2 separate regions of the Homo sapiens genome follow, and region 2 is linked to region 1. Evidence: fine-mapped expression QTL. A gene starts in region 1. The other region holds a variant in brackets. All regions are shown on one strand. Distances are from middle to middle.

Evidence for each region. PIP is the estimated chance that this variant, and not a neighbour inherited with it, causes the effect.
Region 2: its variant is fine-mapped to the expression of MR1 in whole blood (INTERVAL, PIP above 0.99).

Annotation. Positions count from the first base shown.
Region 1 is chr1:181,027,150-181,043,061 of GRCh38, reverse strand. MR1 (major histocompatibility complex, class I-related) reads right to left here and starts at 9,079. Exons shown (of 6, transcript NM_001385161.1): 1 at 8,988-9,079. The coding sequence starts at 9,054. RefSeq lists enhancers at 9,170-9,279, 9,410-9,509, 9,710-9,899.
Region 2 is chr1:181,048,839-181,064,750 of GRCh38, reverse strand. MR1 (major histocompatibility complex, class I-related) reads right to left here. Exons shown (of 6, transcript NM_001385161.1): 2 at 15,439-15,699; 3 at 14,465-14,740; 4 at 12,241-12,516; 5 at 11,074-11,178; 6 at 2,813-9,526. The coding sequence ends at 9,486. Among named protein-coding and RNA genes, the nearest start is that of MR1, 23 kb to the right of the region's middle. RefSeq lists enhancers at 1,904-1,953, 2,594-2,723. The variant T/ATTATTT (reference allele first, on the strand shown) is at 8,387.

The sequences.
Region 1 (15,912 bases):
CTACCAGATTCTGCCTTCTGTTTCCCTCTGCTTACTACCTTCTACCTGCTTCTCAATCTTAAAGCACTTAAGAACAGGGACTTTGCTTTTTTCCTTTGTATTTCCTGCAAAGCTTAGCACAGGGAGCTTGGCACATGGTAGTAGCTTGGTAAATATTGGGTGAATTAAATTGTTGGTGAAACACTTTATTTCTGTGGTTTGGAATAATGAAATATGCTGAAATGAATATGAATCTATTTAACCTGGATCTTTTTTGAGACAGAGTCTCATTCTGTCGCCCAGGTTGGAGTGCAGTGGCGTGATCTCGGCTCACTGCGGCCTCTGCCTCCCTGCTTCAGGCAATTCTCCCTGCCCCAGCCTCCCAAGTAGCTGGGATTACAGGTGCCCACCATCACGCCTGGCTAATTTTTGTATTTTTTTTTAGTATAGACGGGTTTTTGCCACGTTGGCCAGGCTGGTCTTGAACTCCCGACCTCAGGTGATCTGCCTGCCTTGGTCTCCCAAAGTGCTGGGATTACAGGCGTGAGCCACCGCACCTGGCCTAAAAAATATTTTTGATTTGGCCGGGCGCGGTGGCTCACGCCTCTAATCCCAGCACTTTTGGAGGCCGAGGTGGGTGGATCACCTAAGGTCAGGAGTTCAAGACCAGCCTGACCAACATGGAGAAACCCCATCTCTACTAAAAATATAAAATTAGCCAGGCATGGTGGCGCATGCCTGTAATCCCAGCTACTAGGGAGGTGAGGCAGGAGAATCGCTTGAACCTGGGAGGTGGAGGTTGTGGTGAGCCGAGATCGCGCCACTGCACTCCAGCCTGGGCAACAAGAGCGAGACTCCATCTCAAAAAAAAAAAAAAAAAAATTATCTTTGATTCAAGGGAAGGCTGGTGAATGGAGAGTTGAACTGCAATCTGGGATCTGCAAAGGGTACTATATATATTCTGCAATTGATTTTGAAATAGTTCTATTTTTTCACATCTGGAAAGTTTTGTGGCTACACTGGAGGTACACAACTGTCTAAAGAAGGAGGACCCAAAAGGAGGAACAAGTTGTGAATATTAGTTCTCACACTTCCTTAATATTGATTTGTATATCCAATGCTTCTTCTGTGCCAGCCACTCTTCTAGGCCCTAAGCTTGTACCAGACCAAACAGATAAAAATGTCTGCCCTCATGGAGTCTACACCCTAGTCGGGGGAAGGGGAGAAGACAGACTAGAAAATAAAATATATAATTTTTTTAAAGTACAGTGAAGAAAAATAAAACTGCAAAGAGGAATGGGCAACACTATTTAAAAAAGGAAGGCGTATTAAGGAAGGTTTCCCACAAAGCTGAATTCTGAGCAAGTGCCTGCAAGGAGTTGGGGAGACAGGCAGGTGTCTGGGGACAGCAGTCTGGACAAGAAGGGCCATGCAAAGGCCCCTGGAAAGAACATGCCTGGCACATTCCAGGAGCAGCACAAAGGCCTGTGGCTGGAGTTGAGGGAGTGAGGGGAAAAGAAAGAGGGAGGAATCACTTCCATAGTTTTTCATGGGAAAAAATCCCCACGGAGAGCAGACTCCAGACAGAGAATGTGGAGAGGAGAAAAAAGAAGGAAGAAAAAAAGATGCTGTGTTGCTGAGCTAAGCTGGGTTGGTGTAGAACATCCCCTGGAATCTGGGTTTTCTATTTTTATGATCTCTGAGGTCTACATTCCTGATAGATGCCAACAAGCAAAAAAACCTCCAGTATTAACAACTTGGGGCATTAGTGCCCAATAGCAGGATTTATTCCAGTTAAGTATCACCAGCATCATCTCCAAACATAATATTTACAATTCATGTAACTTTGCTTTCTTATAAAAATGTAATTTTCACAAGAATTTGCATTATCTGAAGTTAAAAGAGGTAGATAGAGAGAAATATGGTCTGTTGACAATACTGTCCAAGTAAGTATTGTGCTTTATTTATTTATTTATTTATTTATTTATTTATTTATTTATTGAGACAGAGTCTCACTCTGTCACCCGGGCTGGAGTGCAGTGGCACAGTCTCTGCTCACTGCAACCTCTGCCTCCCAGGTTCAAGCGATTCTCCTGCCTCAGCCTCCCAAGTAGCTGAGATTACAGGCGCCTGCCACTACACCCAGCTAATTTTTTTATTTTTAGTAGAGATGGGGTTTCACCACGTTGGCCAGGCTGGTCTTGAACTCCTACCTCATGATTCCCCCTGCCTTGGCCTCCCAAAGTGCTGGGATTACAGACATGAGCCACCGTGCCTGGCTGTGTCTTTCTTTCTTTCTGGGTTTTTTTTTTTTTTAACTTCAATCTAATTCTGATGCCTGGTTTTGAAACAGTTGTTCTCCACCAGCCAGCCTTGACTTCAAAGTCCAGGCACCTAAAGGCTGGACTTGCTTTTTCAGTCACACCCATCCACCACTGGTTCAGCCCAGCGTGGCTCTGCTCCAGGACATCACAGTCCCTTCCTCTTCATTTGCCATGGGCCCAGTTACCCATCTGGTGCCTCCACAGGAACAAGTCATGCTTGCTCCTTAGCTGGGCCTTTAAAATGTTACCTCTGCTGTGGTGGGAAGTTGATTGACACATGTTCAGTCAGTAACTCACAACAGAAAAGATGAGGAAAAGTCCAGGTACCCTCTCTCTCCTAGTACATTAAAACTTGTGATAATTTATATCCCACCAGGATTTGTTGCAGACATAATCAGATTTCGAATCATTTGGAAAGGCCAATATTTTACCATTTTTGACCTATAAAAATGGCAATTTCATATCATTTGATCTAATCTTCCATTTCTCTTTTCTCGCCCTAATAATTTTGAAATTAAGTCTCTCTCTCCCTTTCCATGAACAGATAGATCATCAGCATCAACTCACTTATTAAGCTGAAATATACAATTTAGAATTTGGTATTCTGTCTAAACCAGTCAAGCTACTTCTCAAAAGGCATCTCCTGCCCAGTCTCATCAGCTTCTGACAGATAGTGCTGGAGAACCCGAACGACACAACCAAAAACTCTTAGGCTAGGTGCAATGGCTACTTGATAGTTCTAAATCATGTTCCCTTTAACCTGTCCATTAACCAGTTGGGCCATTCTTACAAAAGGCTGTGAAAATCACTGGATTGTAAAATAATTGATGAAGTGTTTTCACTTCATCCATGAGGGCAATTTTTCTTTTCTTTTTTCTTTTTTTTTTTTTTTTGAGATGGAGTCTCGCTCTGACACCCAGGCTGGAGTGCAGTGGCATGATCTTGGCTCACTGCAACCTCTGCCTCCTGGGTTCAAGCAATTCTCCTGCCTCAGCCTCCAGAGTAGTTGGGATTATAGGCGCCCACCACTACACTCAGCTAATTTTTGTATTTTTAGTAGAGACAGGGTTTCACCATGTTGGTCAGGCTGGTCTCGAACTCATGACCTCAGGTGATCCACCCACCTCAGCCTCCCAAAATGTTGGGATTACAGGCGTGAGCCACCGCGCCCGGCCTCATGGGGGCAATTATTTATTTAGTGTCTACTATGTACAAGGAATTGGAGGCAATGTTAGGAAGAGAAGAACAAATCAAATACCAGCTCTTTCCTCCAGGAACTTACAGTATTATTGGGGAGCTAAAGCACATAACAAATAAATGAATTCCACCACACACGGCAACAAGCAGCAAGCGCCAGAAAAGAGTACCAATGGAGTGCTCCAGCCACTAGGAGAAGAGAGACCGTGGTCCCATGAGAAGGGATCCACTGGGAAATGTTCCAAGGAGGTGGCAGATCAGATGGGCCTTCAATGAGGCATAAAGGGCAGCAGCATCTTAATCATAGTCATCACAACTGTATTTGTTTATTGAGCACATACCTTGTGTTAGGTACCATTTTAAGCCCTTGATAAGCATGGGTTTCACTTATTCTTCTAACAAACTTTTGAGGTAGGTCTTATAATTCCAACCCACAGATAGAAAATAGGTGCAGAGAGGCCGGGTGTGGTGGCTCATGCCTGTAATCCCAGCACTTTGGGGGGCCAAGGCAGGCGGATCACCTGAGGTCAGGAGTTCAAGACCAGCCTTGCCAACACGGAGAAACTCTGTCCCTACTAAAAATGCAAAAAATTAGCTGGGTGTGGTGGCGCATGCCTGTAATCCCAGCTACTTGGGAGGCTGAGGCAGGAGAATCGCTTGAACCCAGGAGGCGGAGGTTGTAGTGAGCCGGGATCACGCCATTGCACTCCAGCCTGGGCAATAAGAGCAAAACTCCATCTCAAAAAAAAAGAAAAGAAAATAGGTGCAGAGAGATTAATTGCCCAAGATCATCCTCAGAATCCATAAGTGAAGGAACCAGGAATCACACTGTGATCTCTCCATGGGAAGTCCCTCTACCTTGAGACTACCCAACCCTCCCTAGTGTAGGGGAAGCTTTCCAGGCCAGGCTTCTAGCCCCTGGATTATCACTGCTCTCTCCTGCCCCCTTGTGTCAAGGATGACTCACTGCCTCTGATTTCCCAGTCCCTGGGGCCACAGGCTCCAGACCTTCCTACACACAGGTGGCCGTGAGTCCTGATTGGATAACCAGGTCAACACAGTCTGATTATTTATTGGCTCTCTCAAGAAGTCCAATGCCTTAATAAGGTCAAAATGATTATGATTCCTGGGAATGACTCTTTAGAATTTCGAGCATCGTGGGAATGAGGGGAGAAGTAGGTGGCAATATTTTTAGTTAAGGGGACCTTTGGACACATCTCAGGCCATGTTCATGGATGGTTCTATGTGCAGCAAGAACCATTAGTCCCCTCTCCTAATGACATGTCTAACTAACTACAGGAACTTAGAGCATAAAAGTGGCGACTGTGACAAGTTTGGCTTGTGAGCTACTCTTCTGAGGCTACCCTTTTGAAGGTTGCCAATGTCTCACTTCATATAGGTATATTCTTTTCTGAATGTCCAATAAGCACAGTCCTAGCTGCTGGAAACAGAGCAATGAACACATGAAAGTCCCAGCCCTGTGAGATAATTTCTAGACAGGAGATTGGCAATAAATACATATATAATACAAGGTCAGGTGGAGATAAAGATTATGAAGAAAAGTAAAGCAGAGAAAAGAGAGTGTGGAGAGGAGAAGGCCTGATCTTTTAGATAGAGGGACCACAGCAGGTGGCATTTGAGCAGAGATGTGAATGGAGTAAGAAAGTGAGCCCTGTAGGACTATGTGGAGTTTTGGAAAACGAATGAATGAGCTCTGGTGTCTTTTTTCCCTCAGTACTCTCTGTACACAATGATGACTATATGTCTTATGTTTCCCAGAAAATCCCGATTTTATAAATTTTATTTTTCTAAAATGATCCTTTGAAGTTATAACAAAATGTGACTTAATATGTATACTCTTGAAAGATTTTCCCCGATAAATATAAATTCATACATCAGAAAAAACATCCTTTGTCATCTTTCTCAATTTGAGTTCCCTAAAATAAGTGTTCAAAGAGTCATGTGTTTGATCTTTAACTTAGGCTCCTTTCCTCCAGCTCTTAGCAATACTGTGGGGTAAGAGGATTGGGGTCAAGTGAGAATAGACAGATATTTCAACTAGTCAAAAGAAAAATCTACAAATTAGTTGAATTTCTCAAGTTTAGATAGATTCAATGCCAATTAAGAAGAGGGCCTTAGGGGAGTGAAACATTGTCTTGGAGAAATTTCTATGGCATATACCTTGGCAACAGCTCCATGGAAACAGACTGAAGTCTATCTAATAAAGTCTAAAGAAAAAGCCCATATTTTCTCATGTTAACTCTTTGAACTCAAGGTCACTTCTAAGCAGATAATATGCAAGTCTGTTTTTTAACAGTAACCCAGTTGGCAGCTTAGGGAGCTTATCCATCATCAGACCTCGCCTGTGAAGGACTCCACCATTCATGAAGTAGATTGATATAGCAGATTTATACAGCCATAAAATTATGAGTAATATCAAGAGACTGACCTTGGTTATGTCGAGATGAAACATACAAATCACATATGGCAATGCATGAGAAATCTCATGCCAGCCCCCAGTCTGATTACACCCACCCATATCGCCAATTCACAGTTTCACACAGGCTGAAATGAAGAACAAGATGAGTTGTAAAAGCATGAAACACCTTTTTAATACAAATCCTGCAACTACAGTAAGCCACAGTTTTGAATTTGCAGTCGTTATTACTGCCCGAGCTCTCTATGGCTCCCAGTCAAATAACTGTGATTTCTTAGGGACATTACCTCCGAACATAAATTCACTCAGCAAACATTTACTAAGTGCCTGTTGGGCACTAGGTATACCAGAGAAATAAGAAAAAAATGAAGATATCTCTTTCTGTCTTTAAGGAGAGCCTCAAAGAGAAGATTTTTGTAAATGGAAAATTACAGAACTGTGAACAGGAGCCATGGGAGCACAAAGGAAGGAGGAGTCAACTGCAGGCTGTGGAGTTGATGAAAGCAACACACTGAAAGTGATATTGGAGTTATGTTGACATTTCCTGGAGTAATGACCCACAACCCTGCAGTATCTCTTCCCCGTGTTTCCCCATCTATTACTGGTATATAGCTCCCACTCAGGGCTAGCACTAGGCATAAATATCAAGTAGACTGAGTCTTCTTTCATAATCTCATATCCTTTTCCAGCCAATATCCCTCAAAGCCCAGGAATGTTCAGTTAGGGTCCTAGCAGGAAACAGCCTTCAAGCCAGATGGGTCATGTGAGGAGACCTTAATGAAGGGACTCCTTGCAGAGATATGGTCAAGGTTAACGGAACAAACAAGGATGATGGGCATCTGCAGGCTAACAACTATGGGAAGCCATTATCACCCCTAGGGCTTAAGAGATAAGAATAGCAAATACCGTTACTGAAGCCCAATGGGAGCTAGAACCATGAAGAAGGGGTTATTCAGGGAAGACAGCATTACAGAAGAACATAGCTACTGCCAAAGACATCACAGAAAGTGGGGAAGGAGCAAGAAAGATGTATCCCAGCCTCTCTTTCCTCCCTGCTCTCTGACATCTCTCCTTTCAGTGTCTCCCATTGTATGAACCCAAGCAGAAATCAGCTTGCAAGAGAGTCTAGGTGATGCAGTCTAGCAGTCAGCCTCAAGGACACAGAACAGAACAGAGAAGGATGCACTCTAAGGAGTCAGAAGGAGAACAGCCAGCACCAAGTGACCTTCCCTTGCCTTTATAACTTACTTGTTTTATTTCCTGTCCCCCCAATTATCAAAGTGACAAGTCTTCACACCCAAAGGAGCAATGACATTGTGGAACAGCCCTGGACCGAGGGCCAGAAGATCTGCAGTCTCCTTCAGGTTGCTCCTTATGTGAGCGTGGTCACTCTCTAGGCCTAGAGAAAAATCTAGGCCTCATCTTTAAATGGGGATATTTTCTTCACCTACTACAAATAGTCAGTGAGATTGTCATAGGAGATAATATGTTTAAGGAATATTATTCCATATTATTGGAGAGTTCTTTGAGAATCACATGCAGGTAATATATAAGCTTTATTATTTCCAAAAATATCACCCTTTGCCTCTCTCCTCCTTTCCTCTTTCATCTTCTGCCTCTTACCCTCACCCCCAATCTTTCCCATAAATGATGACACTTTCTGGATTAAATTTTCATGGAAGCAGAGACTATGTTTGTCTTGTTCGCTGCCATATCCCCCAAAGTGCCTGGCACATAGTAGGCCATCAATCAATATTTGAACAATTAATATATGGATTTTTTTTTTTTGAGATGGAGTCTCACTCTGTCACCCAGGCTAGAGTGCAGTGGCATGATCTCGGCTCACTGCAACCTCCGCCTCCTGGGTTCAAGTGATTCTCCTGCCTCAGTCTCCCGAGTAGCTGGGATCACAGGTGCGCACTGTGCACAGCTAATTTTTTGTATTTTTAGTAGAGATGGGTGTGCCGAGCTAATTTTTTGTATTTTTAGTGAGATGGGGTTTCACTATGATGGCCAAGCTGGTTTCAAACTCCTGACCTCAAGCGATCCGTCTGCCTCGGCCTCTCAACGTGCTAGGATTACAGGTGTGAGCCACCACTCCCAGCCATATGATTTAAAATTTTTTTATTTGTATAAATTTATGATGTACACATGCAATTTTGTTATAGCATAGATTGTGTAGTGGTCAAGTTGGGGCTTTAAGGTATCCATCACCCAAGTAACACACATTGTACCCATTAAGTAATTTCTAATCATCCACCCCCCTCGCCCTTCCAAATCTCCATGGTCAGTCATTCCACTCTCTATGTGCATGGGTGATTTGAAAGAACTCCTTCCTCTCATGTTCATCAGTCACACCTATGGTGGTGGCCAAGTCTAAGTTCTGGACACTGCCCACCAGTACCAGTCCTCAGCCCAGGGAGCAAGTGATTAGGGCAGAGAAGCCTGGTGGTTCTAGCCCATGGGCCCTTTCCCCTATTTGAGGCAACAGAAGGCATTTGCTTCCCCAGTGACTTGAGCTCCCCGAATAATGAAAAACTCTCCCTTCTACTTGATTAATACTTCTCACAGTCAGTAAACAAACCCAGAGCCATGGTTTTATCTTTCTTGGATCTTTTATTACAGGTAGGGCTTGTGTTGAGGAAAAACATAAATAAACCTGAACAATGGATCTACTCCACTGTTAATGCCCCTGAAACTCTGACTACATCCTCATGAGACTCTGGAAGTTAGAAAAGAGGAGAAACAAAAGTAAAAGAAAAAATATGAGCAGAAAAGAAAGGAGGCCATGCTCAGAGGGAAAGTGAGGAAGTTCCAGAGTCTTTCTAGAACGGCTCCCCCTCCCTCAGAAGGTGGTGACATCAAAATCCTACAAATATGAACTGGGAAACTGTTCAGGCAATCCATTGCTCCTGGAGTCTGAGTGTAATACATACACGTTTCTGCCCCTGGCTTCTATATTTTTCACCACAAGTTTTAGGAAGAAAAGCTGTGCCTTCTAGGCTGCCTCGACTTTGGAGTTAGGAGAGAAGAGGACGTGGGATACTCACGGGAATCGCTGTGCTTCACCATTAACACAATGATGAGAGGTAACAGGAACGCCATCAGTTCCCCCATAGTCCTTCTCTTTCCGGGTTCTTTTAACCAAAAACTGACAGGTCCCTTCTGAGAACCTCTTGGTGACACACAAGGCCTTCTCCCAATAAGAACAGGGGAAGATATGCAGTGTCATCAGTTGCTAGGTTAAAAAAAAAAGATAAAATGAAAGCATGAACACCTTCTTCGGTAACTTTTAAGTCTTTGCTGGTTTCAGACACTGCTTGCTCCTTTTGGTGTATCTATCTTCACCCTATTCCCAATTTTTAAATATTTATGGAGCATAGTCATGTTCAAAGCACAGAGAAACAAAGATTAATCATATCTGGTCAATCAGGGAGCTCAAGCTGCTGCCTCTGCTTCCCTGGAGCTTAGAATTTTGCTTAAGGGTCAGTAAGAAAGAGTCACAGTTCCCACGGCTTGGAACTCCCTGCTCTGGCTCCCTATGATGCTGAAGTCTCTGTCTGAGATAGCAGGTGTCACTTAGATTGTCCCGTAATCTTCAACTTAGGTCTGTCCTCCCTGCTACTCTAGCACCCAGCACAATAAGCTCAAAACACTTACTGAATAAAAGAAGGCAAGAGAAAGGCCTACAGAAGATTCTGAGGGGCAGCCACTCAGCTTGCTCAATCAGCAATCCCCAAGATCAAGCTGTGGCTACACTGTCATAAGGAGCACATGACAAGCTGGAAAACAGCAGCTTAAGCTTGTCCAGGGAGCTAGGGAACAGGCCCAGACAGGAAAGAGGAAGTAGACATGAAGGGGAGAGGTGAATGGAGGCATGGCCATGAGGCAGGCAGGCTTGAGCTGGGTTCAGGGACCTGGGTTTGCCTCCCCACTATTTGACCATGGGCAGAATCCCAAATTGCACCAAGGCCTGATTTCTTCAACTTTAAAAGCAAATCCTGTCATATATTTCACAGAGTTGTTGAAGGATCAGAAGTTCTGTTTATGATGCATTTAGTAGGTAGTAGAACCTTATGTACCGGTTGTATGGTAGGTTGAGAATTGTCGCCCCAAAGATGTCCACAACCTAATTGCCAGAACCTGTGGATATATTACCTTAAATGGCAAAAACAAAATAAAACAAAACAAAACCCTTGGCAGATATGATTAAATTAAGGATCTTGAGACAGAGAGCTATCCTGGATTATCTGGTGGACCCAGTGTAATCAGAGGGGCCTTATTAGAGGGAGGCAAAAGGGTCAGAGTCAAGGAGATGTGACAATGGAAGCAAAGGTCAGAGTGATGATGCCATTGCTGAAAGAAGGACATGAGCCAAGGAACGCAGATGGCCTCTAGAACTAGAAAAGAGAAGGAACAGATTCTCCTTAGAGCCTCCAGAAGGAACACAACACTTTGATTTCAGCTGATAGGACACATTTTTGGACTTCTGTCCTCCAGAACTTTGAAAGAATAAATTTGCATTGTTCGAGGCCACTAAGTTGGTGGTAATTTGTTATAGCAGCAACAGGAAACTAATAGGTCTACCTTTACCCAGAATAAAATAAGAAGCCAAATAATGAAATTAACATTTGGCAATCTCTCAGCGGCCCCTGGCACCTTCTCTTCTCAGATCTTTGTATTTCTCTCTTCCTTTCCTTTCTGTTTCTTTACATTGTTTTTCCTTTTGTTACTCATTTAACAAATACAGTCACCTGGATTTCTCTTTTGGAAAACTCCCCCAATATTCCCAAATGTCTCTCAGCACTGGAATTCCATGGCCATGTATTTTTTCCTTTGAATTTTTGTTAATATCTTGTTCCAAAATGCATTCCATACCATAACCTGCTGTACTGACATTAAAAAGTAGGTATGAGGCCGGGCGCGGTGGCTCACGCCTGTAATCCCAGCACTTTGGGAGGCCGAGGCGGGCAGATCACGAGGTCAGGAGATCGAGACCATCCTGGAACATGGTGAAACCCTGTCTCTACTAAAAATACAAAAAATTAGCCAGGCGTGGTGGTGAGTGCCTGTAGTCCCAGCTACTCGGGAGGCTGAGGCAGGAGAATGGTGTGAACCCAGGAGGTAGAGGTTGCAGTGAGCTGAGATTGTGCCACTGCACTCCAGCCTGGGTGACAGAGCAAGGCTCCATCTCAAAAAAAAAAAAAAATGTAGGTATGTCAACGATGTCTTTCTTTTTTTTGAGACAGAGTCTCACTCTGTCGCCTAGGCTGAAGTGCAGTGGTGCCATCTCGGCTCACTGCAACCTCCGCCTCCCAGGTTCAAGCAATTCTCCTGACTCAGCCTCCTGAGTAGCTGGGATTACACACCCAGCTAATTTTTGTCTTTTTAGTAGAGATGGGGTTTTCCCATGTTGGCCAGGCTGGTCTTGAACTCCTGACCTCAGGATCCACCCACCTTGGCCTCCCAAAGTGCTGGGATTACAGGCGTGAGCCACCACACCTGACCGATGTCTTTCATTTTTTAAGTCATTGTATTCTAATTGCAAATTAGTAAATTTAATCCAGAGTACAGGGCAAATACATATAAAAAACCCAGAGAGTGATAAGATAAAAATCACCCATCAGAAAAAATTGCTGTTGGCCGGGCATGGTGGCTCACACCTGTAATCCCAACTTTGGGAGGCTGACGTGGGCAAATTGCTTGAGCCCAGGAGTTCAAGACCAGCCTGGGCAACATGGTGAAACCCCTATCTGTACTAAAAATACAAAAAATTAGCCAGGTGTGGTGCATGCGCCTGTAGTCTCAGCTACTTAGGTGGCTGAGGTGGGAGGATTGCTTGAGCCAGGGAGGTCAAGGCTGCAGTGAGCTGAGACGCCACTGTACTACAACCATGGCAACAGAAAGAAAGAAGGGAAGGAAGGAAGGAAGGAGAGAGAGAAGGAGGGAGGAAGAAAGGAAAAAATTTGCTGTTAACATATTTTAGTGTATTTCTTTTCAGTGGTTTTGCTGACTACATATGTCTGCATATAAGCATACCTTTATTTGTTCATTTTACCAAAAAAGGGTTTTACGTCCTAATAGTATTTTGTAAATTCTTTTCAAATTTATATTTTCCAATATTAATATGCAGTTTTTAATAGCATAGCTTTAATAGTCCTTAAAATTTTTAATAGATTCAATTATGCCAAGATCTTCAAGGACAGGTAAGACTGCCCCACTAAGCTGGGAGGCACTGAGGTAGGGAGAATCCCTCGCATTCTCTTTGTGGAAAAACAAGCCTCACCTCTGAGCAATAGTCTAAACTTAAATCTCAGGCCGCACTTTTCAGAGTGGGTTGTGCTTATCCTGTTCATTATAAATCCCTTTATGTGTTTGGCTTTTTAATACCTGATTTATTATATGTATTTTAAGGCCCCTCTGAGGAATCTGACTCATTTGCAGTTAGTGCAATTCATCCTTAAAAACCAAATGATGAATTATCAAGTTAGCAAAAGGGTCTTGTTTGTTAAATAATGTTGTTTTCAACATAATATATTTTATTATATTTAATCAGTAGTTTCCCCTTGGCTATTTCTTTTTTAATTCAGTAGAAGTGTGTGTGTGTGTGTGTGTGTGTGTGTGTGTGTCTGTGTCTGTGTCTGTGTCGAGTTTGATTTGAGCCCTTTTCTGTGGGTAGGTAAAATCCATTTGCCAATTTTTGGCCAAGGCTAGTCCTTGTACAAATGGGAGTAGAATACTGTAGCAAAGAACATGGGTTCAGGAGTCAAACTTATTTTCAAATGAGGCTCTGACATTTCCTACCTATGTGACCTTTGACCAAATTATTAACTTCTCTAAGTCTGGGATTTCTCATAGAAAATGGAGGTAATAACCAATTCTGCCTTACAGGATTATTGTGAGGATTCAATGAAATCAGCAGTGGTGGAACCAAGAAGTGACTTGTCACTTGTTGGGGCATTAGAGTACTTTTACTACACACGCATAATGGCCATCAGCTGTCTTAAGTAATCCCAAATAAACCTATAATTTAAGAAAAGAGGCCAGGCGCAGTGGCTCACGCCTGTAATCCCAGCACTTTGGGAGGCCAAGGTGGGCAGATCATGAGGTCAGGAGATCGAGACCAGCCTGGATAACATGGTGAAACCCCGTCTCTACTAAAAATACAAAAAATTAGCCGGGCGTGGTGGTGGTCGCCTGTAGTCCCAGCTACTCGGGAGGCTGAGGCAGGAGAATGGTGTGAACCTGGGAGGCAGAGCTTGCAGTGAGCAGAGATCGCACCACTGCACTCTAGCATGGGCGACAGAGTGAGACTCCATCTCAAAAAAAAAAAAAGAAAAGACAGGGGTCTCCCATGCCACATCAAGTCCCCTAGCCCTGCTGTCCAACCAAATTACATTCTAAAACCTGCCCCATATGGGGATTCTGGAGCTTCTGAAGATAATGCATGTGTGTCACTGTATTTGTTTTCACACTGCTGACAAATACATACCCAAGACTGGGCAATTTACAAAAGAAAGAGGTTTATTGGACTTACAGTTCCACATAGCTGGGGAGGCCTCACAATCATGGCTGAAGGCAAGGAAGAGTAAGCCACATCTTATGTGGATGGCAGCAGGCAGACAGGAGCTTGTGTAGGGAAACTCCACCTTATAATACTGCCAGATTTCATGAGACTTATTCGCTATCATGAGAACAGCACGGGAAAGACCTACCTCCATTATTCAATTACCTCCCACCAGGTCCCTCCCACCACAACACATGAGAATTCAAGATGAGATTTGGTTGGGTACACAGCCCAACCACATCGGTCACTTAGCACAATGCCTGGTACATAGTATGTAAATATTAGCAATCACTAGTACTATTATTGCAATGAGCCAGTTTACCAACACAGATTGATTTTTCTTTCCTTATACACAGTCACATTCATAAAGGATGGTAAAGAACATACCTCCCCTTCCTATAGTGGTTCAAATCCACCGTCTTGTCAAGAAATTCACTGAATTCCAATAACGTATTTCAGCTTTTTAGTACTCACCAATTTCCATTCATTCAGACCCTCCTAACTTGCCTTATTCTAAACAGGATTTAAAACTGTTATTTATTTATTTATTTATTTATTTTTTTGAGACAGGGTCTCACTGTCGCCTAGGCTGGAGTGCAGTGGCGTGAATATGGCTCACTACAACTTCTGCCTCCTGGCTCAAGTGATCCTCCCACCTCACCCTCACGAGTAGCTGGGACCATAGGCATAAGCCACTACACTTGGCTAATTTTTGTATTTTTTTTTTGTAGAGATGGGGTTTTGCCATGTTGCTCAGGCTGAAAACTGCTAACTTTTGATGTACTTTTTCGTATGTGGTCACTTGGCTTTTCACTTCTCTTTTATTACTTTTTCTCTTCTTTTTAAAAAACTTTTTGGATTTCTGACTATCCAAGTAAATATTTCACTGTAGTAGTTGACAAACTTTAAATAGATTTCTTTTTTCCTACGTGTAAAAATTTTCTATGTACCAAAACATTTTAATGTATAAGAAAGAACAGAGCTGAAATTGTATCATATGTATAATTTTGTGTCTTGCTGTTTTTACTCAAGCCATTCCTATGTCATTACATACTTTTAAACAACATTTCTAATGACCACCAAATGGATGTTCCACAAATTCTCCATCATTCCTTAGTGCTGAATATGTAAATTGACTGGAATTCCTCCTTGTTTATTTTAAATCAGTGTGTAGAGGGTGACAGTGGTGGAGGTGTTGGTAACAAACAGGAAGAGGAAATAAATCATGGCCAGTGTGTTTTGGATATGTGTATGGATATTTTCTGTGGTTGGAGGTAGGAAACATAGACAGTCATAGCCAGATCAATGGAACTTAACATAAGTGGAATGTTCTGGAATATGTACATGTATATCAGGGTTTCTAAAAGGTTGGATAATGATGAAGAGTATGATATCCTATATCTATGTTAACACTTTTCTCCCTTTCTTTACCTTGTTTCAAGAAGGATTTAGGGTGAACTCAACAAAAACAAAACAACTCAATCAAAAATGGGCAAAGGACTTGAATAGACATTTCTCCCCACCCCCCAAAAAAGATATACAAATGGCCAATAAGCACACGAATAGGTGCTTAACATCACTAATTATTAAAGAAATGTGAATCAAAACCATAATGAGATACCACCTCACACCTATTAGTACAACTGCTATAAGGGAAAAGAAAACCCAGAAAATAACAAGTGTTGATGAAGATATGAAGAAATTGGAATGCGTGTGTCTTTTAGCAGGAATGTAAAATGGAAAACAATATGACTGTTCTTCAAAAAAATTTAAAATAGAATTACCATATCCAGCAGTTCCACTTCTGGGTATATATCCAAAATAATGGAAAGCAGGGTCTCAAAGAGATATTTGTACACCAGCGTTCATAGCAGCATTATTCATTATAGCCAAAAGATGAAAGAAAGCCAAGTGTCGTCCACTGATGGATGAATGGACAAGCACAATGTGGTATATATACAATGGAATATTAGGCTTACAAAGGAAGGAAATTCTGCAATATGTAGAATGAATGAATGAACCTTGAAGATATCATGCTAACTGAAAGAAGCAAATCATAAAAAGACAGATCCTGTATGATTCCACTTATGTGAGGTACCCAGAGTAGTAAAATTCATAGAGACACACAGTAGAATGGTGGTTGCCAGAGATTGTTGGGGGAGAATGGGGAGTTGTTTAATGGGTATAGAGTTTCAGTTCTGCAAGATGAAAAGAGTTCTGGACATTGGTTGCACAACAAGGCAAATATATTTAACACTACTGAATTGTACACTTAAATATGGTTAAGATGGTAAATTTTATGTTATGTGTATTTTACCACAATTAAATTTTTTTTTTTTTTTGAGATGGAGTCTCGCTCTGTCGCCAGGCTGGAGGGCAGTGGCGTGATCTTGGCTCACTGCAACCCC
Region 2 (15,912 bases), 22 kb before region 1:
GCCAACGTTGTTATGAGGAATAGAAGTAATATATGTGAAGTACCCAGTGCATAGTAAGCACCCATAAATGGTGGCTGCGATTATATGGGACATGGGGAGCAGTCCCTGGAGAGCACGTAGAGGAAGACACATCCCAGATGCCATTTCTTTGCAATATGCTTGCACACACACATCTCCTTTAATCCCCACTTTGACACTGGAAGACAGGTATTGACTAGCCCCGGGTTTTATAAAAATGAGGCTCAGAGAAGTTAAACAACTTAAGATCACCCTGATACTAAGTGAAGGACACAGAATTCACATTGTGCCCTTAAGGGGTTTATAGTCCAGCCAGGGAGATAAGCCGAGCAGAAACAGATAAATACCAACACAGAATAGCTAAGTGTCAGTTGAGTGGCAGAGCTGAAAAGCACTTAGGCGTTTAGTAAGGGAATTATTTCTCTGAGGATAGGCTATCAGGAAGACAAAAGGAAACTAGAGGATTAGAAGTTCCTCTGTCTCACTGAACATCTCTGAGTTCCTTGCTGTCGCCATCGCCACTGCCTATGGGTCCTCTTAGCCCAGCCCAGCGGCTGCAGGGAAGGAGGCAGTGCTGAGCCCTTCATCCTCCCCATGTCCTTTGTTTCATGGCATATTTATGTGCAGGCCCTCCCATCTCACTTGAAAGTTTTATTCAACCTGTGTCTTCAGTATTACTATGAAAGCTCACTGTCAGAGTTGTATTTCTTTCTTTCTTTTCTTTTTTTTTTTTTTTTTTTTTTTTTTTTGAGACAGAGTTTCGCTCTTGTCGCCCAGGCTGGAGTGCAATGGTGCAATCTTGGCTCACTGCAACCTCTGCCTCCCAGGTTCAAGTGATTCTCCTGCCTCACCCTCCCAAGTAGCTGGGATTATAGGCACCAGCAACCACACCCAGCTAATTTTTTTGTATTTTTAGTAGAGACGGGGTTTCACCATGTTGCCCAGGCTGGTCTCGAACTCCTGACCTCAAGTGATCTGCCCGCCTTGGCCTCCCAAAGTGCTGGGATTACAGGTGTAAGCTACCGTGCCCCCAGCCAGAGTTGTATTTCTTCTGTTAGCAGAAAACCCAGGGACTGTTTTATAGAAATGCATTCTAGATTACAATCTCTAAAATTATTTTCTGTGATGTGAGCTTGATTTTTCTATAAGCATATGTCTGGGCCATTTTTGTACTTGCTAATTTTCAGAACATCATTGTGCTGTGTTGCCTACAGAGTCTGGCTTGTAGGAGCAGCAGTTCATTTTGTCAATATGCATATGTACTGAGTGCCTACTATGTGCCAGGCACTGAAGTGTCAGGCCTTATGGCGCATATATTTCATGAATGGTTGATTAACTAATGAAGGCCATAAGAATTTGATTTAAATATCAGTATTTGTGGCAGATTATTAATAAGAAACTGGGGTAAAAAAAACTCTGTGGCTTGAATGAAAATATGGTGTATACCATGCCACACAGAAAAAACGAATAATTCCTTGTGGCTGGGGGCAGTCTCTAAAAATGTCATCATTAGGCCCAGAAACATGTCATCTTGTAGACTAATTTCAAGTCTGTGAAGCTGCACTAGTTTACAGATCTTTGAAATTTGATCTCAATTTCAGTTGCAAAGACCTAAATTGGATTAGAACAGCTTGCCTGTCTTCTTCAGGGATCCTCAGGGACCAATGACCATTCAGTCTTTTAACAGTAAGGTGAAGGGCTGCCCATGTGCTCGGCCTTGGTGGGTTACATCTGGTTTGGCAACTTCCTGTTGTGTGTAACACAGGGACTGTGCATTCGTAGCTGTTTCGTGAGTAATATGCAGAGTGCATGTGTTGGGTATTTTAAAGTACGTGAGAGGGTTGTGTTTCAGCAGCTGATGGGATGCCAAATGTTTGACTTTTTATTATTCCAGCCCTTCAGATTTCCCCAGAATTGTCACCTTCTAGAGCGTGTGTCTTGCCAGTGTGTTCCAGGAATTCTCTATTTATGCCACTGTGATGTTGCTCAGAAAACAACAGAGCTTTCGGTTAGTTCAAGTAAACTTAGAATCTGCGCTGATGCCTCAGAAAGGAAGAAAGGCCAGGACGGCCTCGGCTTGGGTGGCACTCTTATTTCTCCCTTGGTTTCACTTCCTTATTTTCGTGGCTTCCCATTTCATCCTGTAGCCTCCTCTCAGAAGCTGTTTCCCCCCTTCCTACTCCCTTCCCACCCCCGGGTTGTTTCCCCGGTTGTTCCCACACTCTAGCCCATTTGTGTCCTCAGAGGTCTGGCCGCTGCCACTGCACCTGCCTCAGACCCAGTGTCACCTCGCCAGGGCTTCAGCCAGCCTGACCTTCCAGCTGCCACCCAGCAGCTCAGCTTAGGGACTCAGAACCTTCTGGCCCAGACCTTCATACCCAACTCCCGCCCAGGGGCAAATGCAGAAGCCTCTGCTGGTGCAGCCAACACGGAGTGGGGGCAAGGCGGAGAGGAAAAGCAACAGCTCAGGGTGTGGTAAGAGTGCTCAGGGTGCTTCCCAGCTCAGGGCATTGGTAAGAGTGGGTGGAATTTGCATGTTAAGAACTTTCATTAACCAAATACCCAAATGGTGACAGAAAAGCAAATTCAGACTAGTTACATTTCTGGAAGGTTTCAGATATTTGGGCCCCCAAGATGGCTGAGAACTCATTTCTCAGCACCTCTTCTCATAGCCTTCGAGAAAAACAGTACCTCCCATAAGAACCTCCGAATTCTATCTTTGTCTTTAATATGTATGTGTTGGGTGGGGTGGGGGTATTGATGGAATGTTTCAGATCACTAATCTCACAGACAATGCAATGACAAGATAAAGTTTATTAGATGGAGAATGTTAATACAGCTGAAACCTTTGAAGAATTCAGACCAGTCCTCAAACCATTCATCCTGAGTACCTGGAATGTTATATGATCTTGAGTGGGATATTTCCCCTCTATGACTTCAGCTGTAAGATGACACTGTTCTTTTGTACCAGTACATGAAGACTAGCTAATTAAAATACTATACTAGTTCATTCAAAAAGTATTTACTGAGTTGCTACTACGTACAAGGCATCATGCAAACAGACTGTGCAGTATTACATAAAATTTTTAAAATAGATTTCCATAAATAAACACCATGATAGGATTATGTAACATCTTCCAGGGAATTTTAACCGTTTGGATGTACTACACAGTGGTTCTGGTTCTACCAGTCTAAATGAATTGACTTGTTTTTTTTTCCACCATCACTCCTCCCTTTCAATTCAATTCATTCATTCTGGTGTGCAGCCCATTTCTGTCTATTTTCTAATGATATGACCAGAGCCACCATGTAGGCTTGTGCCCTGCACAAGGATAGATACCCCACTGGGGAACAAACGGGACCAAAATCTACTCTGTGTTCTGCTGGCCAAGCCGGGTGACCTGGCCTGGGCTGGCGTCCTCCCAGAAGAAGGGTTCATTTTTCCAGTTTGCACACATGTGCTATTTGTGGGTTAGCTGAGGCCCTGCTTATGTCTTCAGTTGGTTCACAAACCAGAAACAGAACAAATGGCCATCATTTGATTACAAATGTAATCAAACTAGATTTACAACCAAGGCTTGCTGAGTGGCATTATGGGTTTTATCCTGTTGCATGGCAAGCCGCTCATGCACGGGCTGTGCTCAGTGTCCTTTTTCCTCAGCCATGCCAGCCATGGGGAAGCAGGAGGGGAGCTTGTTGGAGAAGGTGGCCTCAATGAGAGCCTTGGTGCATTCCCCTGAAGCCACAGTTTGGGGCTTCTCCCTCAGCAGGGGTCTCCACAGTCTGAGTGTTTTCAGAAATCTTATATCCAGGGGACCCCAAATCTTATGTCCAGGCCCCAGGGTCTGAACTCATATTTAAGTACTGAAAGGCATCAGCATCTCCCCTCTGGTTGAACTTGACCTTCTTACTGAGAACCAGCCAGGCAGGCATCAGAAGCCTCAGGCTCCAGAGGAGAAGCTGGTGGGCAAATAGGTCAGGAGCAACTGCTTTCACCATCAGGGATGAAAGTTGAAGACCAAGAACACTTCCTTGTCCTGTGGTGCAGGGGTTGGGATGGAGGGGTGAGTCTTATAAATGGAAGAGAACTAAGTGTTGTGATTTAAAGGAAGAACATTTGCCTCCTGCCCCCAAATGCTCCCAAACTCTCCAAAATTCCACAGATTCCTTTGGCTTAACTCCTTTCACAGAGGTAAGCTAAGGTAGTCAGTCTCACTGTAGTTGCGGTGAATTCATTTAATGATCTTGGTTTCCTAACTGCTAGATAATCCAGTGGAGCCAAAAAATTTTGGTGGATTGAGGGAACCTACAGAGGTTGGGTAGAGATGTGTTAGGAGTTGAATTGTTTCCTCCAAAAAATTCATGTTGAAGTTATAACCCCCAGTACCTCAGAATGTGGCCTTCTTTGGAAATAGGGTTGTTGCAGATGTAATTTGGGAAGGTGAGGTCATCCTGCAGTAGTAGAGTGGGTCCCTAATCCAGTATGACTGATGGCCTCATGAAAAAAGGAAATTTGGACACAAAGCCATGCATGCAGGGAGAACACCAAATGAAGACTAGAGTTACGCAGCCAGAAGGCAAGGAACAACCAGAAGATAGGAGGGAAGCCTGGAACAGATCCTTTCCCAGTCCCTTTAGAGGCAGCATGTTTCTGCCAACACTTCATTTTGAACTTCTGGCCTCCAGAACTGTGAAACAATAAATTTCTGTTGTTCCAAGCCACCCAGTTTTTGTGGTACTTTTAAACGACTACCCTTGGAAACCAGTACAAGGTGGAACGGGGAGACGATGGAGAACATGACATTGTGACATGTTGCATCTTTCCCAAAATGGCCACAATGATATCTCCCAACTACATGCTCTTCTTACAATGTAACTCTGACAATCTTCCTATTGAGTGTTGGGTTCTATACACCCTCTTTTTGAACCTGAGCAGGATTTTATGACTTCTTCACCAATGAGAGTATCACAAGAATGACATTTTGTGACTTCCAAGATTAGATTATATAAATGCTATGCACTTTGACTGTGATCTCTTGGGATACTCACTCTGAGGGAAGCTAGCTGCCATGTAAGCAGTGACTGCCCTGAGGCCACCATGTTGTGAGGAAGCCCAACCCACACAGAGAGATTACATGGAGAGTTCCTGAGACTACATGGAGGAGATGTAGCTGATGCCTGGCCACCACCCCTGGCTGCCCCATTTCTGTTCCAGCCACCACTTGCCTCCAACTCCATGAGAAGCCAGAACTGCTTACCCAAGCCATATCCAAATTCCTGACCCATAGAAACTATGAAAGAAAATAAAATGGGTATTGTTTTAAACCAATAGGTTTTGGGTTTTGTTACACAGTCTGTGGGGTTTGGGGCAACCAGAAGCTAGAAGGACAATGGAGAAAGGGAGGCCAGAGTGAAAAGGAGATGCAGAGATGTTACAGAGACATACAATGCTCAAAGATGGCAATTTCCAAAGAAAGAGAGGTGAAGGCAGCTCAGGCAGTGGAATCATCAACCTCTAAAAAGCACAATGTACTGAATGTCCTGAAGCTATTGGGGAAAAAAAAAAGATGAAAAGGGCAATGCAGTTAAGTGGGAAACACCTGGGCTGGGAGATGCCTGTGCTTCTTCCTAGCTCTGCTGCCCACAGCACATGGCTATGGGCAAAGCCCCCTGTCCTCCTTGGAGAACATTCTGTGAACTAATACACTGTGTGTGAGAAAATAGCAAACTCCAGAGAGCAGGTGCTAACAAGCAAGAATGTGTCCCCTTGCACCAATTCTGGGGTCATCAAGCACTCTACAGATTGTGATTTAGTTGTTCTTATGTAGATTTTCCTGCTGGAAGGTGTACTGACCAGCTGAGACAGATATCTGACCCACTTAGCAATTGTGTTTCTCACAGTAAATTAATACATTGGCACTCCACTTTATATATCCATCTGATCACTTTGTGGGGACACTAGACCTGCATATGTGAGGACAAAGACCCCAGACAGTGGTTTTCAAAATAAGGTGTGACTGCTCTGTGTGACTCTGGCAGAAAATGATCAGCTGGCCTCCCTAGTGGACAATCTGTTCCTCATAGCTACAAGTGCAAAAACATCTTCTCTCAGGCCAAAAAAAGAAGAGGAGAAACCAAGTCATTCCTCAGAAATAAGGAAAGGATCACAACTTGGAAATCATGGGAGTAAGAGGAGAGAGGAAAGGAGGACTGGCCCCTGATGGGAGAGCTCAGAAACTCTCGATGGAGTCTTGTTGGATTTTTCACCCTGCTCTTTAAACTGCTTTCTCTCCCTTAAATGTACCACATCAAAAACATCTGCCATTTAAATTTACCACATCTTGGTCTATATGCACATCAAAAACAAACAAACAAAAAAAACAAAAACAGGTAATAAATACAGTGGAGTTAAAAAAAAAAAAAAGAACAGAGTTGAACAGGTTTCTCATCTAGTGTTCTTGATCCAAAATATTCAGTAAAGAAAATTCAAAGCCAAAACATAGCTGTGGCAATAGCACAGTTATTTGTTTTTAATGTTTAGATCATGGTGTCAAATATTTCATAGGTTATGATTACTGAGCATCTGTACTCAACAACCATGAAGTAATGAAGCAATAACAAGGCTAAAACAATTAAGAAGTAATATAATCTTCAACCATCTATAGTAAAATGAAGGTTGCAGAATTTTAGGTATTACTTACTTATTTTATTTTTATTTTTTTGAGATGGAGTTTCACTCTTGTTGCCCAGGCTAGAGTGCGATGGCGCGATCTCGGCTCACCACAACCTCTGCCTCCCGGGTTCAAGCGGTTCTTCTGCCTCAGACTCCCGAGTAGCTGGGATTATAGGCATGCGCCACCATCCCCGGCTAATTTTGTATGTTTGGTAGAGACAGGGTTTCTCCATGTTGGTCAGGCTGGTCTCGAACTCCCGACCTCAGGTGATCTGCCCACCTCGGCCTCCCAAAATGCTGGGATTACAGGCATGAGCCACCGTGCCCGGCAGTATTTTTTTTTTAATCATCTCTTTATATTATGATTCTTTTAGTATTATAAAATCCCCCAGGAAGAAACATAAATGCTACAAGTGCATAACAGAATGTTTTGTCATCACATCCTTGTCCTTGCCTCCTCTTCATCCATTTGGACATATTATGTGTTAGGTGTAGGGCAAGGCCTTGGAAACACAGAGGCTTTTTATCTGTGTCTTTGATGAGAGTATCCTGCAGTTGCAGAATCAAAAGGCATTTACATAGATACATTATCACCTGTGTCTATGTAAATATGTACCTTTTCACTTTAAATGCCCACCCAAAAATATATTACATCCTAACTATTCTGATTGTAAGAAGAAACCATTCCAGAAATAAACTTGCCTACATTCTCTTCACAGTGCAACACTGCTTAAAAGTGGCACGGAAATTGCCCATGGCAACCCTAAAAACAAAATAAACACAACTGTGCTTCTATGCAACTCAACAGGCACCGGAAAAGAGAGATGTACAGTGGTAGCTTCATATATGGAATTACATGGGACAGTGGAGCAAGGAGGAAGCCTGGCAGGTGAGCTCTTAGAGGCCTGGCACACTGAGGGTATCTTTCTTTTTTTTTTTGGAGACAGAGTCTTGCTCCGTTGCCCAGGCTGGAGTGCAGTGGTGTGATCTCGGCTCACTGCCACCTCTGCCTTATAGATTCAAGTGATTCTCCTGCCTTAGCCTCCCAAGTAGCTGGGACTATAGGCACATGCCACCATGCCCAGCTAATTATTTGTATTTTAGTAGAGACAGGGTTTCACCGTGTTGCCCAGGCTGGTCTTGAACTCCTGAGCTCAGGGAATCCGCCTGCCTCAGCCTCCCAAAGTGCTAGGATTACAGGCGTGAGCCACTGTGCCCGGGCTGAAGGTACCTTTATCTGAGGCTGTAATGATTAAAGCCAAAGGTCAAATGTCACAGTCAAGGTCAAGGGAGAGCAGAGGTCAAACCTGAGGTGCAGGACAAAAGCCACTTGTCAAAGTTCAGGTCACTGAAGTAAGCATTAGGGCTCAGGTGCAGAGTCAAACGGGGTCAGAGAAGTAGGACCGAGGAATGTGTGACTGGCAGCCCCAGGGCAAGTAGCTCCACATGGCAGGGCAGTAGGTGAGGCCTCAGGGGTTGGGGATAGTAAGGAACATTAAGGGGATGTTCATTCTCACCATGGGCTTTTATTGATTCCCAGTGCATATGTATGAAGACAACCTATGTAGGAAGGCAAGTCATGCCCAGCTACCATGAGCCAGCACAGGAAAGGCAGAAATGAGAATTGAGCCCTCTCCTGACACCAAATATACTGTTATTATTATTATTATTATTATTATTATTATTATTATTATT[T/ATTATTT]TGAGATAGAGTCTCACTCTGTCGCCAGGCTGGAGTGCAGTGGCGTGATCTCGGCTCACTGCAATCTCTGCCTCCCGGGTTCAAGCAATTCCCCTGTCTCAGCCTCCCAAGTAGCTGGGACTACAGGCACGCAACACCATGCCCAGCTAATTTTTTGTATTTTAGTAGAGACAGGGTTTCACCATATTGGCCAGGATGGTCTTAATCTCCTGACCTCGTGATCCGCCCGCCTTGGCTGCTCAAAGTGATGGGATTACAGGCGTGAGCCACTGCACCTGGCCATACTGTTATTTTTACATTAAAATAGTGCAGCTGGGTCCAGGTCTCTGTAGTTCCACTGGAGGTGATGATATGTCTGATAATTATTTCTCTTAATTTCCCACAAAAGACAAAAAGGGTGAGACTACCTCCATAGATCCAACCGGGCAGATTACCAAGATTCCAAGCTCCCAGGCAGGGTTGCTGTGAACAGCAGGGGACTTTGGCTTTCTCTCAGGCCAGAAAATGTATAAAAATAATCAGTCCATTCCCAGGCCATTGTAGAAACCTGCCGGCTACTCTCATGGAGTGATCCAATCCTACCTGTAGGGTCACAGTCATGGTGCCCATGATATTCAAAGCGCTTGTACAATAAATGTTCCCATGAAAGATGAATGAGAAAGGCCATTTTATGAAGTACTGAGGTTCCCTTCACATGGTGTTCAAGTGGAGGCTGGAGGCTCAAGTCCAAGGCATTGCAGAAGACAGTTCCTGCTCTGGTTGAAAAGATTCCTTCCTGCTCTGAGAATCTCCAACTAGTTGCAAATCATCATTGACAAATAGAATGTAGGGAAGCGTTGTGTCATGAGACAAGCTGTATTTAAAGTCAACTCTGATAAAACAGTCCATCAAAAGAGACTGAAAGCTGACAGTCTTTTTGGAGCCAAAGAACAAAGAACATTTTGTGGCTCCTCTGTTGCTGCCATAAATGCTCAATCCCATTACTCTCATGTATGTTGTGGGTGTCGTCAGGACCTTCAAGCACTAGGCTTGACTCTATGGGGGACAGAGGATAACATGGCTCCTAGAGGAAGGAGAACTGGAAAAGAGGGATCTGCAATCATCGATCTGGTGTTGGAAGGTAGATGGCTCCATTTTGCTCTGAAAGGAAAGGGGTTTTTAGTCAGATTACAAGAATGTTTCCTCACAGCTCAAAAATAAAGTATGCAGTGTTCAGCAAAATCTGAGAAACAGGCATCGACAGTTTTAGCTTGCTTTGTCAAGATTCTCTTAGTACTTGACAAACTTTAGCTCAAATTTGTAAACTCTATAAGATAAAAAGCAGGAACTCACAGTCTGTATAATTATTGAGAGAGGGATGTCATTGTAAAAAAATTTTTTGTTTGTTTCACTATCATTTATTGGATTAGGATTAGTGCTGTACTTTATCTATAAAGAAAACATTAACAACCCATTAACTCTCTGAGCTGATTTTCTTTTCTTTTCTTTTCTTTTTTCTTTTTTGAGACAGAGTCTCGCTCTTGCTGCCCAGGCTGGAGTGCAATGGAGCGATCTTTGCTCACGGCAACCTCCGCCTCCCAGGTTCAAGCGATTCTCCTGTCTCAGCCTCCTGAGTAGCTGAGATTACAGGCATGTGCCACCACGCCCAGCTAATTTTTTTTTTTTTAATATTTTCAGTAGAGGCAGGGTTTCACCATGTTGGCCAGGCTGATCTCGAACTCCTGACCTCAAGTGATCCGCCTGCCTCGGCCTCTCAAAGTGCTGGGATTACAAGTTGTAAGCCACCACGCCCGGCCTCTGAGCTGATTTTCTAGTAAAAGGGTTGGTTTTACTTTGATCTAACAACATGCTTTTGTACAGTTATCACCTGAATTGGAGTTGAGGTCTATGTCTATGAAGGAAAACCAAACTTCTGGTCCACTTTGGGTTCAAAGCATGGTCTCATCGGTACTATCCTGTGATCAATTTGAGCAATTAGTGAAGCCAGAGCCAGGAGATAACCTTACCAGGCTCTATTGTAAGCTCTATGAAAACAGGGATCGTATCTGTCTTGTTCATTGTTATATCCCAGCAACCAGTACAGTGCCTGGAGCACAGTAGGTCATTAATGTATACTTACTGAATGAATTTATGTTATTCCACATTATCAAGAGCCTATATATCTCCTACTTCTCCTCCCCTTTTCCTTACTCTAAGTCCCATTCCCTGAAGGTATCTACTCTTACATATTTAATGTTTTGAATAATGAATTTACAAGGAAAAGGACTTTCATATGCTTGGGATGAAAGAATGGTGGTCAAAATGGGAAAACTGACTGAAGTCTTGAAACAAAGGACACTGCCCCAGAAGTCAATAGTAATTAATAATAAAAAGATGGTTTGGAAAAAGACAAATCAAGATCCCCATATCTTCTCTGACCCAACTTCTAGGGGGACAGTTCCCCTGGACAGATGTACTAGTTTGTTGATGTCAGGCATCACCTATGAAAAGAGACCACTCTCCCTGTAAGCTTTATCCATGCTTTGTGTCCCCTACATGGTGGGAGGGTTGTCCCAGGTCCTTCTGTGATCCCAGCCTGAGAGCCAAGCCATTTCTGAATGGAGGAGGGAGCAGCAGGTGCAGAAAATAAAACTGGAGAGATGCAGGAGAGTCTGCAGCCCCCTGGATCCCTTCCATGTGCCTCTCACCTCGGGGCCTTCTTCTCCAGACTAGAACACCAACTCCAGCCAGCACAATGACAAGGACAATGGACCCAGAGACAGCTTTCATCACAAGAGGGATAGTTTCTGATTCTGAAAGCAAGCAAATGAGAAAAAATCCACAAGTCCCCTTTCCCTTCTGTGTTAACTTTCTGGGACTTTTGTCCCTGTGATCATCAGGAAACCCAACACCATTTTCCTTACTGTTGCTTCTCACTCATCAATCTGACCACTAATGGAATATCTGCTTGTGTTTTCTTGTGTTTAATTTTTTTTTTTTTTTTGAGACAGCGTCTCACTCTGTCGTCCAGGTGGAAGTGCAGTGGTGCCATTATAGCTCACTGCAGCCTCAACCTCCTGGGCTCAAGCGATCCTCCCACCTTAGCCTCCTCAGTAGCTGGGACTACAGGCGCATGCCATCATGCCCAGCTAATTGTTGTGTTTTTTGTAGAGATGAGATCTCAGTATGTTGCCCAGGCTGGTCTTGAACTCCTGGGCTCAAGCAGTTCACTCGCGTCAGCCTCCCAAAGTACTGGCATTACAGGAGTGAGCCACTGCGCCTGGGTTGTGTTTTTTTGTTTTTTGTTTTTTTGTTTTTTTGAGAGGGAGTCTTGCTCCCTTCGCACAGGCTGGAGTGTAGTGGTGCGATCTCGGCTCACTGCAACCTCCACCTCCCAGGTTCAAGCGATTCTCCTGCCTCAGCCTCCAGGAGCTGGGATTACAGGCATGCGCCACCATGCCTGGCTAATTTTTGTATTTTTAGTAGAGATGGGGTTTCACCATGTTGGCCAGGCTGGTCTCGAACTCCTGACCTCAAGTGATCCACCTGCCTCAGCCTCCCAAAGTGCTGGGATTACAGGCATGAGCCACTGCACCCATTCGTGTTTAATTTTTAAATTTTTAATTTGTAATGTAGTAAATAGCAATAGATATAACCCACATCAGCAAAAGCTCTCTGGGGTCCTCAATAATTTTTTAATAGTATGAAGGCGTCCTGGTTCCAAAAAGTGTGAGAACCACTTATTTAAAAGACCCATTCTAAGGCACACTGAGTGAGGCAGTGATCTATCCTCCCCTCCCTGGCAGCGAGCATGGTTTCCTGCTCACCCCTTTCTCCAGGCTCTCTCCCTAGACAGCCACGATCCCCGTCCTTACCCTGGGGGACCTGAAGAACCATGTGGACACCGCAGTGCTCCACATGACAGGAGTAAAGGTTGCTGCTCTGAGGATCAAGCTCAATTGATGCCCACGCCTGATAGGTTCCATCCCCACTGGGAAGAATGTCTCCATAATCAATTTCTTGGACAATTTCTTCCCCGTTTTTCATCCATGTCATGTAAATTTCTGGGGGGTAAAAGCCATGAGCTTTGCAGAAGAGAGCTGTAACCCCTGGAAAAGTTTCTTTGCGATTTACTCTGACCAGTGGGGGCTCTAGGAAGAAGAAGCTAAAGTTAAATCAAAGTGCCTTATGTACTGAGCATATAATATTAGAACTTGGCAACTGGCTTTCCTAATTTTTCTTTATTGCAGGAAACTTCTAAAGCTAAGAATGACCCAGAACTCAGGTTCATCAACAACAAACGTATTTACGTATACCTTCCATGATGGCAAGGTGCTAGGTAGTGAAGAATGTGGAGTTGGCCCATGCTCCATCCTCTAAGGGGGGAAAGTCATACAGCTTTGACTGTTTGGAAAGTGTGCTGGGGTTGTTTACTAGTAACCTTTGAAATACCTTTATGTGTCAAGGAAAACTGACCCATAAAATGTGTAAGTGACTGTTCCCAATAAGTAAGTCAGCAATAGATTGGAGATTAGAACTCCTTGTTCTCATTTCTGTGTTTAGTGCACGTAAATAACACAGCCATCCCCACTCAGTTTTGGCTCCGAATTGCCTTGTGTACTTGCGCTGGCATTTTGATGACTGCCATCAGGTACAAACATATGTAGTAGATCATGCCATGGTTGTGCCTTCGAAGAAACTGATATCATAGAAGGGCTCCAGCAGTGACACCAAAGAAGTACCCACGTGTGACCTTGCTTCCTCATGACTACTCTTAATTTTCCATACAGTCCTGTCCTTAATGTTTCTTGCTGAAATTGGGTCAAACAGCCATACCGAGACCAAAGGCACTATCTGGGGGGGACTGCTTCCTGCTCATCTCTGACTTGCCTCCTGACCCCCACCTTATCATCGGCCAACCCAATACGGAGAAGAGCCTTCACTCCAACAATGCTTTCCTTGTCTCTTTACCGAGGCATGATATTTGGTAGTAGAAAAAGGCTTTCCAACATTAAAAGTAAAATAAATGCTACTAGGAGGGACTGTGCTTTTTGATAGGGCCTGTAAGAAATTAATCCAAGATCCTTTTCTAGGAATGTGTTTTTTCTTTTCTTTTTTTTTTTTGTTTGTTTTTTTAGGAGTGTGTTTTGACCAAAAGGTTGAAAATCCATTAGGACACTGAATGTAGACAGAGGCCTGGAGAGGGGAGCTTCCCATACTCTTCCCACACACATTGTATCTAGGAGTTTCCTGTAGCATCATACAGGTGTGATTAATTTTGAATAACAAGACCATACATGAAAAGTTCTATATGAACTAAAAGTTGACCAACTGAATCATATCTTTAAGGTATAAGAGGAGCTCTTTGCTGAAAGGAATCTTATCATTAATACTTTTTTTTTTTTTTAAATAGGGTCTTGCTCTGTGACCCAGGCTGATCATGATCATGGCTCACTGCAGCCTTGACCTTCCAGGCTCAAGAGATCCTCCCACCTCAGCCTCCTGAGTATCTGGGACTACAGTCATGTGCCACCATGCTCAGCTAATTTTTTTTTTAATAGAGACAGGGTCTCACAATGTTACCCAGGCCAGTCTTAAACTCCTGGCCTTAAGCAATCCTCCTGCCTCAGCCTCCCAAAGTGCTAGGATTACAGGCATGAGCCATCATGCCCAACCTCATTAATCCTTTAGTAAAGCAGAGACCTTCTGTTTGTCTTGGTAAATCCAGATTTTTACTCCTACTGGTGGTGTGTGAGCCCTTTGTTAACTAAACAGTTTGTAAGAATTGCTCTATCTCCCAAAGAATTTCCCAGCTTATCATTGACGGAATGGAAGAATTTGCCTCAATAGATCCCTAAAAACAAGGTGCCCTTGGAGGTACTCCACTCTGTCAAGACAAGGGGAACTGTCAAATCTTGTCAAGATGCTGCTCAAAAGTAACCAGGGAAAGTTTTCGTGGGGGCTCTAGCCATGAGATCACAATAGGCCAACTAAAGAGATGGCTTTCAGGATACAGTGGATATAACCTAGATTAAAAGAGTTACGTATAAAAACAGTTGTTCAGGCAATGTGGGAATGAGGCCTTCTCTTTCTCTTTACCTGTTCTTTGTAGGGTGTCTTTCCCATACTCCAGGAATCTCTTTAGCCAGGCAATACATTCTTCTTCCAGCCAATTCTTTTGATACAGCAACTCATGCTGATTGGCCTCCCATGCCTGCTTGATGGTGTGAGCCACATTATCTACAGCCAGCCAGGAGAGGGTGTCTTTATTGAAGATCAGGAAATCCTGCCCGTCATATGCATACTGCAGAAATCCTGTGGTGCTTCCATCCTCCAGCAGCTCACAGCCAATCATTCTCTGGTAAGTGTGAGACCCTGGAACACACACAGAAGCCCAGAGGGGTCCACACAGAGACAGAGGTGGGCTCTCAAGTGCTGGGAGCAGGGGCATGGCTGGAAGCATCCTTTGGTCTACATTATGTCACCCCCCAGGCCTGCCATGGCATCGCTGAGTCCCCAGGAGGTCCCCCTTATGGAAGCCCACCTGTCAGCAGGTATCTGTGAAGTACCTACTGCCTGTCAAAGGAGTGTGCTAATTCCCGCCTTGGGGAGTTATCCTGTAATGGGAATGACTGATAAACTTTGTGGCTATTCTGACTGCAGTGGAGGAGGGAGAGAGATGCAGGAGCCAGAAATACCCCTGGGAAAGTTACTGTCGATACTCATAAGCAAGTCACTAGGCCTGACTACCAGGAAGTGAGACGCAGAATGGGCAAATTTAGAATGGAAAAGGAGATGCATATCAGAAGCCTGAGTGGAAATGGGATGCAGATACGGATACAGAGATGGGGAAGAGTGGGTGGGGCAAATGACAGAGTGCTCCTGGGGGAGAGAGGGACAGTCCAGAAGATGCACAGGCAGATGGGAGGCCCTGAACTCCACCAACCTGATTCCTCAGGCTTTGCCAAAGCTACAGCAGGTGCAATTCAGCATCCGCTTATTGGAGGCCAGCCCAGGGGTCTCTGCGGGTTGGGGTGGGATGGGGGAAGCGTCTGTCTCTGCCGCATGCACACCTGAGTGATTGTAGTGCCTCTGTAGGCGCTTCAGTTCCACCTTGAACATCTGCTGCCAGCCCCTCAGCAGCTGAGTGTACCTCTCCCAGTGATCAGGCGCGAGGTTCTCTGCCATCCATGGGGCCCGTGGCTCCTTCTGCCGAGTGACACTGTCATATGTGGTGATAGGGTGCGAGTCCACGTACCCAACCGAAATAAATTCAGGGACCCCATGGATGGGATCCGAAACGCCCAGGCGAAAATATCTCAGAGAGTGCGTCCCTGGAAAGGAGGCAAAGAAGGAAGACATGTAGGGTCCCAGATGATCCAGATCCTTCAACTGCATTCATTTAGCCCCACACGAGTGCTCCCTACTCAGCTGTACCCAGGCCTCCACGCCCCAGCTGCCATTTCCTCTTACAGAACCACAGAACCCAGGAACCGGGGCCTGGACAGGACGTAAGAGCTCCAGACCAGTGACTTGGAGCCTTTCTC